Homo sapiens: one gene and its partner. The protein of the gene in region 1 interacts with the protein of each later gene in a pairwise test. Each region holds a gene or a part of one and is shown on either strand. Other genes may lie near its edges. The genes, in order: NELL1 and ATXN7.

Region 1 (3,823 bases):
GGTTACATGAAGTTCTTTGAAAAATTAGCTTTTTGCCTTAACATCCCTTTGCCTTTGTGTCTATTTGGTGTGCTCTTATTATTACAGACAATAGGACTTCTCAATGTTGTCAGAAAAGGCTACAAATATTAAAAATAAAAACCACATTCAGAAGGGAAACAAAATCAGCCTTGAGAATAGCATTCATTATATTAAAACTGACATTTTCTTTGGAATTGAGTTTTGTAGGTGAGCACAGCTCAGCTTTGTGGGACAGTGCTAGAAATTGCCACTATTTCCCTTAGGCAAGCTCCTGGATTTTAAGAAAGCTCAGATAGATATAGAGTTGCCTTTTGGGCCATTTAGTCCTTAAGAAGTTCCCTTCTTGGAGTGATATAGACACCAGAATTGTTCCAGATTTTCAGAGTAAGGCACGTATGGGTCCTCTCACAAAGGTACACAATTCTGAGACCCTTTTAGGAGGAATGCAGATCTGGTTCAACTCTGTTGTTCAATCCAAGGTCATATATCTGTTACTGCCTTGTGTAGGAACTACTGGGGCTATGGAAATGAAGTAAAGATAAGTGATAAGTTGTTACTTTCTTTCTATTGAGGTTCCACATCTGTGGATTCAACCAACCATGGACCAACAATACTCAGAAAAAAATTCCAAAAAGTTACAGAGAGTAAAACTTGAATTTTCCATGTACCGAGTACTGCATTGAATCCATGTGAATGAATTGATGTTTAGACATTGTATTACTTATTATAAGTTATCTAGAGATGACTTAAAGTGTATAGGAGGATGTGCATACGTTATATGCAAACTATACTATTTTATATAAAGGACTTGAAGATTTTCAGATTTTGGTATCTGCAAGTGGCCAAACCATATGCCATCATCCCTCAGTGTCCAAGAGTATCACCAAACTCAGCAGTGTATTTTATCCGTTTCCTAAAGCATTGCCAAATAACTTAATTATCATAGATTCTATAAACTCTATGATTAGGCTGGAGTTTTGTTGTATTAATTTATTTATTTATTGAGATGGAGTATCGCTCTGTTGCCCAGGCTGGAGTGCACTGGCATGATCTTGGCCTGCTGCAACCTCTGCCTCCCAGGTTCAAGAGATTCTCATGTCTCAGCCTCCAGAGTAGCTGGTGGTACCCGCTACCACACCCGGCTTTTTTTTTTTTTTTTTTTGTATTTGTAGTGGAGACAGGGTTTCGCCATGTTGGCTGGGTTGGTCTCAAACTCCTGACCTTGGGTCATCTGCTCGTCTTGGCCTCCCAAAGTGCTGGGATTATAGGTGTGAGTCACTGCACTTGACCTAGGCTGGAGTTTTAAATGAAACATGGATTTTTAGAAGATCATGCATATTAGAAGGAGTGATAGGAAGCTAATATTTCAGGCAGCGTCAACTCTTAGTTCTTTAGGGGCTGCTCATGGTGCATGGTGGTTGGTCTAAGATCCTATTTTTTGTTTTTTCTACCCTTTGCTACCACCCACAAAAGGCAGACAAGGGGTAAATTTTCTTGAGAAATTCCAAAAGCTTGGAGGAAGAGGATGAAATAAATGACAAAAACAAAGGTTAGAATTACATGTGGATTCCATTTCCAGAGAGTAGTTCTGGTATGAGTAAGTCAGAGGAAGGTGTATGAAATGGAACCATAGTTAATGTAGAAAGATGGTGGAAGTCATTCCCTAGGTTTATCTATTATGTCTAAAATAGTGGCTCAAAATAATCTTAGTTAGATCAAAGGTTGAATTGATCTCCTGTATGGGGAAAGTACTTAAGACATGAAAGGATAAACATGATTGAGAAGGAAAAGAGAAACTCAGATAATTTTCTAGGAAACGATACTTGTTTTTCAATCATGGTGGTCTCTATGTAAGGGAAAGGAAAGGAAGAGTAATATCACTACTAGGTTGAGTTACTCTTTCGTGTGGATGTGACAGTAGACAGATCATATCAAAGTGCTGTATTTAGGGTTTTTTTGCACCATATTTTTGAAGGTAAACTGGAGTAGGCTGTATGAAAAGTGATCAGAAGAGAGGCTTGGAATCATATCATGAGGAGCTGTTAAGGGAACCTGGTGGTGCCAAGTGTGGTCAAGACGACAGGATAACCTCAAATGCTTGAAGATTAGGTTTGCTCAGGATGGATTACAATGAAAACCTAGGTATGGCAGGAAAAAAAGAAAGATTTCACAGCCAAAACCATGAAAAATGTTTCAAACAAGAGAGCTAACTGAGAAAAGTGGCTTTCCTTGGAAGATAATACATGTTCCTCCACTGGAGATGTACAAAGGCTAGATAATCACTTGAGGTTTCTTGTGAGGATATTCAAGCTTTATAATCCCTTTCCAGCAGGAGAGTCTAAGACTCTGTGATTATTGGCAATGACTGGGTGGCCTAGAAAAATAAAAAAGGTTATTTTACAAAATTCTGATCTTACCTGGGGTTTTGGTTACTTTTCCTGTCCTTCTTCTAAGCACAAAAGTGAATTCCTGGGGCATTCTGTTTGGGGGATCCGCTTACGACTTTTCTTTTTTTCTGACCCCAGCTCTCCAGAATTTTTCATCAGACAGAAGGCAGTGACTTCCTAGTTTGTAAACCACGACATTCTAGTTAGTGTGTGAAGAACATAGAGAGGATAGTGGGAGATAAATGTAAGTGCCTCGGAGTTCCTGATTAGATCGCCTGTAAACATCATAATGAGTCCTTGAGAACACATTCATTATGAGTGTTTTTGTGTGGGCTTGAATGGAAAGCACACACATTTATGAACACCCATGAGGTTCCTGAGTTACAGTTTAATGTCTCATTTGGTATTCATTAGACCATGACAGCCAATATTTCTTCAATTTAGAGTGATTCCACCTTGTGTAAAAAAAATAAAAAAAACAAAAAACAGATAATGCTAAGAATCAGTGAACTGCTCTGAGCATTTTTTTCTCTTCTCAGAAGGATTTTTTTTCTTGTTGCTATTAGCTTTGTTAGGATGATGCAATTGAATTACAGAAATTACATTCAGTAACTCTTGTTTGCAGCTAAATTATGCAGAGACAAGACTTAGTCAATTGGAAAACTGTCATTGTGAGAAGACTTGTCAAGTGAGTGGACTGCTCTATCGAGATCAAGACTCTTGGGTAGATGGTGACCATTGCAGGAACTGCACTTGCAAAGTAAGCCTCTTTGTAAATAAATACAGTAAAAACAGTTTTAAGGGGAGAGGTTTGATAATTAGAGTGTAACCTGGTTCTTTAATAAATAATATTAACTCTGAGAATTGTTAGGTTTTTACCTAGCACCCACTAGCCATACGAGCAATTGTGAAGCAATGCTGGAAGAGTGTCATGTCTTATATGAATACTTGGAAATTAAAATCTGCTTTCCCTTGCCAACACACCCTAATTTGATTTAATAGGCAATGTTTGGAGTTTGAAGGTTGGGATATAGTGGAAAGAAGGGACTCCTTTGATTTTCAAACAACCTAATGGTTATCCTTATTCACAACCAGAATAACTTTAAAAGGGGAGTTTAATTATTTTCTACATGTTTTTATTGTCTTTTGCAAAGTGTATCCATCACCTGTTTCAAATAATTGCAAGGCATTTCCTCCCTGACTCACTGTCAGTGTGAGGATATCCATTATTTGTATATCCCTTCATCTGTTTCAGTGAATTACAACATCCCCCTCCAAAAATTAGTATGGAAACCCTGTCCAGTTGAAATTACTTGATAAATATCTGAAGAATGCCATTGTTTGTCTAGGAAAATACAAAACAGATTGTTAGAGCCTCAGAAATGATTGACAGAGTCTGCAAATGTGTTATTTAT
Region 2 (3,823 bases), on another chromosome or scaffold:
CCAAAGCCAACCTTGCCTTCACCTGGACAGATTCTGAATGGCAAAGGGCTTCCTGCACCGCCCACTCTGGAAAAGAAACCTGAAGACAATTCCAATAATAGGAAATTTTTAAATAAGAGATTATCAGGTAACTTCAAATTTTCTTTCTTCATAATGCTTCTCTATATATTAAATGGGCATTCGTGGGGAGCAAATCAACTGCAATCTAGAATTCCTATTTTTAAAACTGGTCAACTTCAGCTTTAGGAGGAAGTTCCTTAGTTAATATGTTTGTTCTTTTCACTCTTGGGTTTTAAAGAGCATGAGTGTGTGTGTGTGTGTGTGTGTGTGTGTGTGTGTGTCATGTAAAAGTAGCTTTCTAGTGGTGTATTTCTGAAGGAAGTAATACAGACTTAAACAATATCTTTTCTACCATCTGATGGCAGTAGTCACCCCCTGTCTTAGTGATGTTGCTGCTTTGTTGCAGCACTCACACGTTGTATATTTTTTATTTTATTGATAATGTGGCTTTTATTCCAGCTATAATTTATCTAACTGTTGATTTCTTCTATTTTCTTGCTTAAAAAATACATGGAGGAGAGTTTGTCAGGCCACATGTAATGCCTGTGTTCTTTTGACAGAAAGAGAGTTTGATCCTGACATCCACTGTGGGGTTATTGATCTCGACACCAAGAAGCCCTGCACCCGGTCTTTGACATGCAAGGTAGGTGGACTCCTGAAAGTCAAGTCGACCATCCTGATAAACATGGGTGACTGGGATGTACCACACTACTCCCACAGTCTCTCTAACCCAGAGAAGATGCTCTGTGGATTGTTGTGAATTGTGTAGGTGAAGGAATAACTTGGTTCTGTTGAAGAAAGCCTCAGATTGACAAAATGTGAAGTGCGTTGTTATAAATTATAATCTTGACAGAGGTTTTGTTTCTAATGAGCAGTGTTGTATCCACAGGAATAGTGTTCTCTCCCAGTCTGTTATTTTTAAAAACTTTTAATATTTCCATATAGGCTACCCTTGACTGTGCTTTAAATTATACTGGCTTAAAGCAAGTGCAGAAATTTCCCTTGCGTGTGTATGAACATTTAAAAAATGTGTCACCCATGGTCTTAAATTTTAAAGAACCACTTTTTAAAAAATCTGTGATTTTGAAATATCCCTGTTTTCTAGTTTAAAAAAAAAATACTGCAAGCCAGGCATGCCTGTAAGTCCCAGCTAGTGGGGAGGCTGAGGCAGAAGGATTGCTTGAGCCTAGGAGTTTGAGTCCAGCCTGGAGAACATTACGAGACCCATCTCTTTTAAGAGAAAAAAAAAACTAGATAAAATATATTAATAATTTATATACAAGCTAAGAAAATGTAATGGTCTTCCTTTTTGCTCTGGGGTCTTCCTTCTTTTAAAATGCCAGTATGCTAATAAGGTATATTTGCTGAAAAGTGTGGGTTATTGATGTGGGGTGGCTTCAGGTCATCAGTGAACACCTCTACATAAATGAGCTTGTATGTTGATGTGCATTTCTCTGGAGGGTGTCCCCAGCTACCCCCCAGATAGGTTCAAGAAGCATTCAGAGTCACTGCTTTGAAGTATGTAATTTTAAAACCTTAGAGGGAGGAAGTAAAAATGATAAAAGTTAGCATTTTCTTCTAAAAATTAATAAAATTGTTAGTGTTTTACTTTAAATTTTATTAAAGTGTATTTGAATAAAGGACTTCAGGCCCTGTCCCATGCCCCAGCCAGTGGAGGCATGTTACAGTCTTCTGGAGTGGGAAATTTTTAAGTGGTTCTTACTTTAAGCTTCTAATTTAATTTTAGTATATAGATTTTGTCTTACAACAGTGGTTCAGAACCTTTTTGGGGAAAAGGGTTGGTCAAGAGTACCTTTAAATATCTCATTTTTAAAAAAAAAAAACCACGGTCCATCTTCCGAGAATAAAATAGTGCATACACATACACATTCTGAATTTTTCTATCTTGGATTAATGGACACCCCCACCCCAAGCCCATCCTTGGATTTCTAGGTTAAAAACTCTCATAAAACAAACTGCTTTTTTTTTGTATAGGGTACTAATTGGACACACAGTGGTGTAGTGGTGGTGGTGTATGAAGATAGCCACCTGAGTTCTGTAGAATTATGTCAGTTTCAGCTGTCCCTAAGAGAATGTGTGAAAGCATGCCTCAGCCCTGTCCACATCATGATCACAACTTGCCATTCTCCTTCTGCGCTCTTCCTGCCTACCTGACTCTCAGTAACATGGATTTCTCAGTAATACAGTACCTGTGGGCAATGAGGTTTGCTTTTTTCAAACCCAAGATGTTCTTTTTCAGTCATTTACAAAGCGTGGCAGGGAACCACACCTTTAAGTGTGCAAGACAGTATTGTTGACTGTGAAAGAATATTATACAGCAGATGTCTAGAACTTGTTCATCTTGCTATAACTGAAACTTTATGCTCATTGATTAGTAACTCCTTATTTCGCTCTCCCTTCAGCCGCTGGCAGCCACCACTCTAGTTGTTGATTCTGTGAGTTTGATTATAGATCTCATATAAGTGGAATCATGCGGTGTTTAGTCATTATGTGACTGGGTTATTTATCTTAGTATAATGTCTTCAAGCTTACCTCATACTTGTTGTAGCATATTGCAGAATTTCCTTCTTTTTAAGGGCTGAATAGTATTCCAGTGTATGTATATACTATGTTGTCTTCATCCAGTCACCTGTTGACAGACATTTATATTGTTTCTACATCTTGTCTATTATAAATAATACTTCAGTGAACATAGGAGTTCTAATAGCTCTTTGAGATTCTGATTTCAGTTATTTTGGATAACTACCCAGAAGTGAGGTTGCCAAAAGTTTTTTTTCAACTCAAAATCTTCAAGGAGCTTGACTGGCATTCTTCCTGTGCCTTTATTGCTAGGTGGAGTGACTTTGAATGGGTCTGCATTTTTCTCACATCTTCCTTTTCAAATGATATATGCTCCCCTTGTCGTCCTTCTTTAAGGGTGTCATTACTCTCCGTGGCATTGGGCTAAGCCTGTCATTGCATTAATAAGTCTTGAGACCCAGCTTGTCATGAGATCAGCATAGAACTGGCAGAAAATGCAGCATCCACCAGGCCTGCCCTTTTACAGGATGACTTGACTTTTTTTCATTGTTTTGTCAGTTCTTTTCCTTTTCCTTGCCTTCACGTTGGTCTGAATCTATTAAGCTTGGTAGGGCTAAACATGCCTGCATGTCCCTACCCTGAGTGTTTCCCAAGTTGCTGCCAGGTCTCTTCTGTCTTAGACTTAGAACGTTATCTGTTCTCTTCACCGTCAGGGGATTTGCTGCTGTTCATTCCCATTACTCATTCTCTGTTGTCTGTCTCCCATCCTCACTGCCCCTCCTCACTTCTTCATCTGTCTAATATCCCGTCGAAAGTCCTCTGTGCCTTCCACGCGGAGAGATTTGTGACTCCTGTAGCCTTTGTCCATTCACTCATTGTAGAACTTTTTATTACGTACATCTGTGAGCACAGGCCTCACTCTTTCTAGGTCGCAGGGAATAAAGGGTTTAGCACAATAACCACGTGTTCCCTATGCTTGTGGTGCTTACAGTCTAATGAAAGAGATGGAGAGTATTAATCACCAAAATAACTGTAAAATTACCACTGATGAGTTATAAAAAGATGAGAGGACTACATTATGAAAGCCTGCAAAAATGAAGTTTTTCCAGGGAAGGCTTTCTTGCCATAGGAACATTGGGCTGAAATCAATGTGATGATTTATCTGGGCTTGAGAGGGATGGGAGAGGTAGGAGAGGTGGAGGAAACAATATGTGTGAAGGCT

What was found.
Region 2: the proteins of NELL1 (region 1) and ATXN7 interact in a two-hybrid assay, tested with the Homo sapiens proteins (one study listed by BioGRID and IntAct).

The regions. Positions count from the first base shown.
Region 1 is NC_000011.10:20,924,275-20,928,097, forward strand, and holds part of NELL1 (protein kinase C-binding protein NELL1 isoform 1 precursor), read left to right. Parts: intron 1-2,438; exon of another isoform or gene 2,439-2,522; intron 2,523-3,033; coding exon 3,034-3,168; intron 3,169-3,823. UniProt on the Homo sapiens protein: Plays a role in the control of cell growth and differentiation. Promotes osteoblast cell differentiation and terminal mineralization.
Region 2 is NC_000003.12:63,982,319-63,986,141, forward strand, and holds part of ATXN7 (ataxin-7), read left to right. Parts: coding exon 1-127; intron 128-620; coding exon 621-703; intron 704-3,823. UniProt on the Homo sapiens protein: Acts as a component of the SAGA (aka STAGA) transcription coactivator-HAT complex. Mediates the interaction of SAGA complex with the CRX and is involved in CRX-dependent gene activation.